Linked DNA regions of Homo sapiens. The protein of the gene in region 2 purifies or fractionates together with the protein of the main gene of each other region. This does not show direct contact. Each region holds a gene or a part of one and is shown on either strand. Other genes may lie near its edges.

What was found.
Region 1: the proteins of LGALS3BP (region 2) and TUBGCP2 purify together in Homo sapiens (affinity purification with mass spectrometry; 4 studies listed by BioGRID and IntAct, with this or other methods). This does not show direct contact.

Annotation. Positions count from the first base shown.
Region 1 is NC_000010.11:133,281,273-133,285,016, reverse strand, and holds part of TUBGCP2 (gamma-tubulin complex component 2), read left to right. Parts: intron 1-1,014; coding exon 1,015-1,135; intron 1,136-1,795; coding exon 1,796-1,939; intron 1,940-2,674; coding exon 2,675-2,794; intron 2,795-3,580; coding exon 3,581-3,744. UniProt on the Homo sapiens protein: Component of the gamma-tubulin ring complex (gTuRC) which mediates microtubule nucleation.
Region 2 is NC_000017.11:78,973,236-78,976,979, forward strand, and holds part of LGALS3BP (galectin-3-binding protein precursor), read right to left. Parts: intron 2,922-3,744; coding exon 2,730-2,921; intron 1,585-2,729; coding exon 1,453-1,584; intron 1-1,452.

The DNA of each region.
Region 1 (3,744 bases), on a different chromosome or scaffold from region 2:
GCGCCCCCCTTGTGCCCTCCTGGTAGACAGCTTTCTAGGCTTCTGGAAGTGTCATCTGGAAGCGCACGTTGGTGGCTTTAGATCCATAATGCTTCATTGCTTCATTTTCCTGTCTTGGGGCTGCACGGCGCTGCCGTCCACCCCACAGGGGATGCTGGCTCTGTCCCTCAGCCCTCTCTGGAGCCTTGTGGTGACTGCACGGGCATGGAGACTGCCCAGGTCGGTGTGCAGGACACTAGCTCCTCCCGAGAGCGGACAGCCACATCTTGCTGGGACCAGAGGTGCTTTGCAGCCGGTCTGTGCCTCTAGGGTGTTGAAAAAAGGGGTCGATGGCAGAGCTTCATAAGAATTTGTCCAGTCGGGTGCAGTGGCTCATGCCTGTAATCTCAGCACTTTGGGAAGCTGAGGAGGGAGGATTGTTTGAGCCCACAAGTTCGAGACCCGCCTGGACAATGTAACAAGAGCTCATCTCTTAAAAAAAAAGAAAATTATTTTAATTAGCCGGGAATGCCTGTAGTTCCAGCAACTCAGGAGGCTGAGGTGGGAGGGTTGCTTGAGTCCAGGAGGTCAAGGCTGCAGTGAGCCAAGATCGTGCCACTGCACTGCAGTCTGAGCGACAGCAAGACCCTGTCTCTCGAAGAAAAAAAGAAATTAGAAGAAAAAGAACTCATCTTGATGATGAAGCACAAATATGCATCTGTTGTGTGGCACTTTCCTGGCGTGGGCTCCGAGGGGTCCGTCCACCAAGGAGCCCGCGTCCCAGTCTCCACCGTCCAGCTGGCTGGGGGTGTCCCTGCAGGGCACAGGTTGGTAGACGGTGACAGCTTGTGCTGGGCAGACGCAGGAGCAGCGGCCGTGAGTGTCTGGTGTGCTGGGAGGGGCGCTTGCTCTGCAGAGGAAATAGCCACGTCCAGAGAACGTCCTCCATGGCTGTCCTCCGTCCTCCGTGTCACTTGGTGGGCGCTGTCGGGGCCGCGTCCTCCATGGCTGTCCTCCGTCCTCCGTGTCACTCAGGTTTGCTGGGGCTTTCACTCTGCGGCAGCGAATGCTCAACTTCGTCCAGAATATTCAATACTACATGATGTTTGAAGTGATGGAACCGACCTGGCACATCCTGGAGAAAAACCTGAAATCCGTGAGTTTTAGCTCCACAGATAATAACGTTTGAAAGCCACTTTCCTTTCACAGGGAGACAGGAAGTGCAGGAGAGGCAGGGCGAGGGGAGAGGCAGGGAGTGCAGGAGAGGCAGGGAATGCAGGGAGACGCAGGGAGTGCAGGAGAGGCAGGGAGTGCGGGAGAGGCAGGGCGTGCGGGAGAGGCAGGGAATGCGGGAGAGGCAGGGAGTGCAGGGAGACACGGAGTGCAGGAGAGGCAGGGCAAGGGGAGAGGAAGGGATCCCCCAGGGCGGGGCTGCACCCACACTGCTGGCCACACACGGGACCCCTTGCTGCCTGCCGTCCTAGGGGGACTCTGAGCCGTCTTTGCCCCGAGGTTGTCTCTCCCACATTGCGCATCTGAGGCTGAGGGGCCTGAAGGCAGAATCTGTTGGTACCAAATTCCAGAAGCTGCCGCAGCCTCCCTTCCTGTCTTCTGCCTTAAGAAATGAAACCCCTTCGGGGTGTGCCCATCATTTTTTTAGTGGTGTTTGGAAGTTTTCCCCTAAAAGCCCAAGGCCCATTTAAGAGGTAGAAGTGCGTAAACAGGAATGCACAAAGCCAGAACTGAGCACGTGCGCATGCAGGGCCCGTCTGTCAGCCACGTCTTTCTGAGAAGGGGCTTGGCCTGTTCCCCGCAGGCCTCCAACATTGACGACGTCCTTGGCCACCACACAGGCTTCCTGGACACCTGCCTGAAGGACTGCATGCTCACCAACCCCGAGCTGCTGAAGGTCTTCTCCAAGCTCATGTCTGTGTGCGTCATGTTCACCAACTGCATGCAGGTGCGTGGGTGTGGGTAGCACCATCGGGTGGGCAGGCGCGGGTGGGCAGACCATGTCCCGACCGTGGCCGCACGCAGCCTGCTCACGTTTTCCTGCCCTTGTGTTCGTGGAGGAGCCGCTGGGATCTGAGTGTTTCCAGAACTCCTGGTCTTCCTGGCCGGGTGATTCCCTCCTGGAGCCCCTGCCCTGGCAGCGTGGGCAGGGCTGTGTTCCTCCCGAACCATCCCTCAGCCTCTGTGGTGCTGGTCTCTGTCCGGGGCCTTTGCTTATGGCCCTTGCATGCTCTTTTCCTCAGCACTTGAGCTATTTGATTCCGTTAAGGACCTGCAGGCACTAGTCACAAGCAGCTGCCGACTGGCGATGGTGCAGAACCTGCGTGTCTAGTGGCAGAAGCAGGGGTCTGAGAATGAGGCTCTCCAGGCAGTGCCATGGGGAGGGTCCGGAGGAGGGCGAGTGGGGAGGTGGAGGAGGGCATGGCCACTTCAGGGTCCCAAATAGGGAAACACCAAAATAACTGTTCTCAGGAAAATCAGCTGGTCACCGTGGAAGGTAGACCTGGGAATTCTGTCGGCACAGATAAGTCATTTCCCCTGCAGCCTCAGAGATGCTTGTGTACCCCCAGCCGCAGGCTACAACAGAGGTGCGGAGGGTGACGTGCCTGCAGGACTTGTTTTTTCTGCAAAGCATTGTGGTTGTAACTAACAGAAGCATTTCCTTGCGACTCTCCCCCCCTAGAAATTTACACAGAGCATGAAATTAGATGGCGAGCTGGGCGGGCAGACGCTGGAGCACAGCACCGTCCTGGGGCTGCCCGCAGGGGCCGAGGAGCGGGCCCGGAAGGAGCTCGCCAGGAAGGTGCGTGGCCTCCAGGTTTGGCCAGAGAGAGACGCTTCCTCCCGGCTGGGCGGCAGCCTGGGCATCCTGACGCAGGGAGAACAAACCTCCCCCCTTTTACTTCCATCTCCCCTCAGATTGAAGAAAAGACTTAAAATTAGCTTCCAAGCACAAGCACAAGAGCCTCTCACAATCTTCTCAGCTCTCTGGTCCCCACTTCAGCCAGTCGGGCTCGAGGGAACCCCCACAGATCTTCAGAGCGAGCGCTGTGCAGGGCGCCTGGGCGAGGGCAGGGGCCACACCCGCTGTCCCTGCTGAGCTCGGTCCTGAGTTAGAACCGTCAGGCTCTCAGCAGGCACGGACAGGCTGCATGTCCTCGGAGGCATGGCCCTGCGGCGCCGGCTCCGGGGTGGCATGGTGGGGTGGGCAGTCCCGTGTTCACACGCTGGAGCTGGAGCTGGCAGAGAGGAGTTGGGTTTGGAAGCGTGGGGGCCGGAGGTGAGGGACACTGAGAGGCGCCCCGACCTCCTTGCTGAGAAAGCTGCTGGGAAAGCTCGTTCATCTCACCCCAAAGGAGAGTGACCACCTCATCCCACGAGGCCTGGAGTGTTTCTCTGAGTGCTGGGTTCTCAGGAATGTTTTTTGATGTCTTTTTTACCTTGAATCTCCTGAAAACATCATGGAACCCATGTTTTCTATTTAAGAAAAGGGGAAGGGAAAGGACACCGGCCTGCTGGGAACAGTGTGGAGCCAAGAAGGCCCACGGTGGGGGTGGGCATGGCTCACGCACCCCGGCTTTCTTTCCAGCACCTGGCTGAGCACGCAGACACTGTGCAGCTGGTGTCCGGCTTCGAGGCCACCATCAACAAGTTTGACAAGAACTTCTCAGCCCACCTGCTGGACCTCCTGGCCCGGCTGAGCATCTATAGCACCAGTGACTGTGAGCACGGCATGGCCAGCGTCATCTCCAG
Region 2 (3,744 bases):
GGAGGGAAGTGGGCTGCGTTAGGAGCCGGGGCACTGCCACTCTCTGGGGTCAGTGTCTTCATCTGAAAGTGAGGGATTTGTGGCTGCCTCATTCACTCTGGAAGGCTCCTGGGAAGACGAGGGACAAGAGAGACCGGAAGTGTCGGATTCCTGGACCCTGAGGCCCCGCCCCTTCCAGCCCTGGGGAACAAGAGCAGCTAGGACCTGGCCAAGCCTGTCCAGGCCCCCGCTTTAGGCCCTCTGCTCTGTGCTGCTCCCCCGACTCAGGCAGCAGCTCCGCATGGAGACTTGGTGGTACTGACTCCGGAGCCCCCACTCCCCAGCCTTGGTCACCAATCACCACTAACACCAAAACCACTGCCTGCTTAGATGGCCTGAAAAGTTAGGGTCCTGTGGCAACCCCATTTTAGAACTCCGGGGGTCCTCGAGCAGCTTCCTGTCGGGGAGAAGGCCTGCAGAAGTCATGGGAGGCTCCCGGCTCGGGGGTCAGTGTGGTGCACCCTCTCCCCTTCTTTGAGCCCCTCTCAAAGCCTAACTCAAAATGAAATCCCATAGGTTTTTCTTCGCCACAAATATAGTAGTTTTGAAGTAACTGTGACCTTTCAACCAGGTGGGCTTGCCCTGGGCCTCCTAAAACCTGAGCCACCGCAGGACCCCCAGCTCCCTCCCACCTGCACGCCTTACCACAGCTCTCCTGCCCCAGGAGCTTTGGCCGTGCGCCCATGGCCCCGTGTGCTCCCCGCCGCCTCCCCTGGCCCCCGACAGCCCCATGGCGTCTCCTGGGCTTCCCCCACTGTGAGTCCAGGCTCAGCTCCAGCCACTTGTCCATCCCATGTGGGCACAGGGGCTCCCTGGGATTCGACCCGTCCTGCCTTAGGGGCCTCCAACTCCTGGCAAAGGGCAGTGGGCAGGAAATGCCCAGGTTGTCACGTGCAAGCCCAGGAAGAGCCACCTCGGCATGAAAGAAAAACAAGAAACTCAGATCCAGAGGCTCCAACCTGCAGAGCAGCCTGGGTTCCCTCCAAACTGGGCCAGGTTGGGGGAAGCAGGCTGAGGCTGCGAGTAGCCGGGACTCCCTCCGCCAGGACGGGCTTGAGCCTGTCGCGTGCTGTGAAGTGTATTTCTGAGCGGACGCTGGCATTTCAGGTCAGGCTGGAGCCAGGTGTCATGCTCACTGAAACTGTGGCTCACTGCCCCACACTCGGGTTCTGCATGGAGACTTGGTGGTTCTGGGTGTTTCTCCAGAAGGGGCTGGGGAGGAGTCTGGGACTGTGGGACTGGGAGCTGGTGGGCTCTTGGGACGTCTGGGCCTCTCCATGCGGAGTGGGCAGGCGGTAGTGGAAGGAACCTTTGTGTGCTTCATGTGCGTGGGGGGGTGGTGCTGGGAGGGGCAGGGGCCACGGGACCCCAGGGCACACTGGGGCCTCCGCAGGGAGGTGCGCCCCCGCTCACCATTGGTGCAGACCACACCAGCGTCTCTCTCGTGCCTGCAGTTGCTCTTCAGCCAGCCCAGGGACTTGCAGTCGGCCAGTGAGGCCTCGGTTCCCGTGCACTGGACCTCATCCAGCATGATGGGGCCTGATCCTGTGGACACAGCAGATGGCAGGGCTGGGGGCGTGACGACTGCACCCAGGAGTCCCACAGCGCGACTCAGCCCTTTGTTCTCCGCCCCGGCCGTGTGGGTCCATCTGCTTACAGGTCCTTCACCAGCGAACCACGGAGGATATTCCAGCATGGGCTGGATTTGTGATTGCAATGTCAGGCCATAAACTTAGCCTTCATGCTTATAAAGCTTACCGGCTGCTTCAGCGACATCACATTCATGTATAGTAATTGTGTGACTATCCCTGCAACATCAGTTTCACATACTGTAATTGTGTGACTATCCCTGCAACATCAGGTTCACATACTGTAATTGTGTGACTATCCCTGCAACATCAGGTTCACATATTGTAATTGTGTGACTATCCCTGCAACATCAGGTTCACATACTGTAATTGTGTGACTATCCCTGCTGCTAAATAGTTTATGGATTGTTTCTTTTTTTTCCAGAATCGCAACTGCTGTGTCAGTGGAAATCTTCCTGCAGACTTTTCTTTTGAGGAGAAATTGTTTCAATGGGATAAACTCCCTGGAGTGGAGTTTCTGGGCCGGAGGGAACGAGCCCAGCCGAGCTCTTGAACCTGCCCAAGCACCCGCCACCATCACTGGCCAAGTGTGGGTGGAGCAGTCCCATCAGAACTTGATCCGCAGGCCTTCAGCACCATTGAAAATGTTTGCTCATAGGCCGGGTGTGGTAATCCCAGCACTTTGGGAGGCTGAGGCGGGCGGATCACTTGACACCGGAAGTTTAAAAACCAGCCTGGCCAACATGGTGAAACTCTGTCTCTACTAAAAAATACAAAAATCAGCCGGGCATGGTGGCAGGTACCTGTAATCCCAGCTACTCAGAAGGCTGAGACAGGAGAATCACTTGAACTCAGGAGGCGGAGGTTGCAGTGAGCCGAGATTGTGCCACTGCACTCCAGCCTGGGCAACAGAGCGAGACTCCATCTCAAAAAAAAAAAAAAAAAAAAAAAAAAAAAAAAGTGTTTGCTCTTGCTAAATTAATAGGAATCCAATTTGCATGTCTTTGAAACCTGACTGTTTCGTCTTAGGGGATTTGCCCCTCCTGGGAGCTGGCTGTGCTGTGGGTCTCAGCCTCAGTGGAAGGGGACAGCAGGCCCTACCTTGCCCGAAGGCAGCTCTGCCCAGAGCCTGGGTGGCGTTCTCGAAGCCCAGGGCCCGGCAGACGACGCTGGCATCAGTCAGGTCCCACAGGTTGTCACACACAGTGCCCCACTGGCCTCTGTAGAAGATCTCCACGCGGCCCTGGTTGGTGGCGCCCCCATCGGCCAGCCGCATGTCACCATCGTTCACGCCTGCAGGCAGAGACCAGCGAGGGCGAGGCTGGGGCCTGCAGCACCCACCGCCCACACCTCCAGGCCCCATATGCTGTCCTGGGTCTCCCCTGCTGAGCTTGTATTTCAGGGCTTCAAGGTCCCCTGGCCTCTCCATGAGGGGCACCTCCATGAGGGAGGAGTGGAAGATACATACAGCCCCCCCTACCCCGCAAGGAGGCCAAACTCGCCTTTCCTTGTTTTAGGGGTCTCAGCCCTTCACTCCATAGACAGAACAGGGGCAGAGAAGCCCTGAGTTCTCCAGCACTGGGAGTGGAGGTGGCAAGACCCTGAGGGAAGGATAGGAGGGGAACGGAGGCCCCGTGCTGACCCGCCCTGCAGAGGGTGTCTGCAGTTTGGGGGTGCTGGCCTATGGGGGCAGCAGGCCTAGGGACCCCTGGGAGCACAGGCAGAATGTTTCCAGGGCAGATAATGGGATTCCCCCGCCCCACATGTCCTTCTGGGACTCAGTCCACCAACACTCCAGCCCCTACAGGAGCTGACAGAGCCGGGCAGGAGCTGGGTGCCTGAATCCAGTCGGGGGTACATCTGGCTTCCATGGGGCCCCCAGGATGAGCATGAGCTTCCAGGGGCTCACAGTGTAAAGAATGTGAGGAAAAGCAGCCAGGACCCTCTGGAAGACTGACCTGCGTCCAAGGCCACTGACCTCACAACGGCCCCTGTGACTGCTGGTTTGATCAGCCCCTCTGGTTCCCTCTGGACGGAATGGAGGATTCCCTAGTGTCCTCTCTATAACCTGCATCTCACCTGAACCCAGGTGAGCCCCCGGGAACCTCCAAGTCAT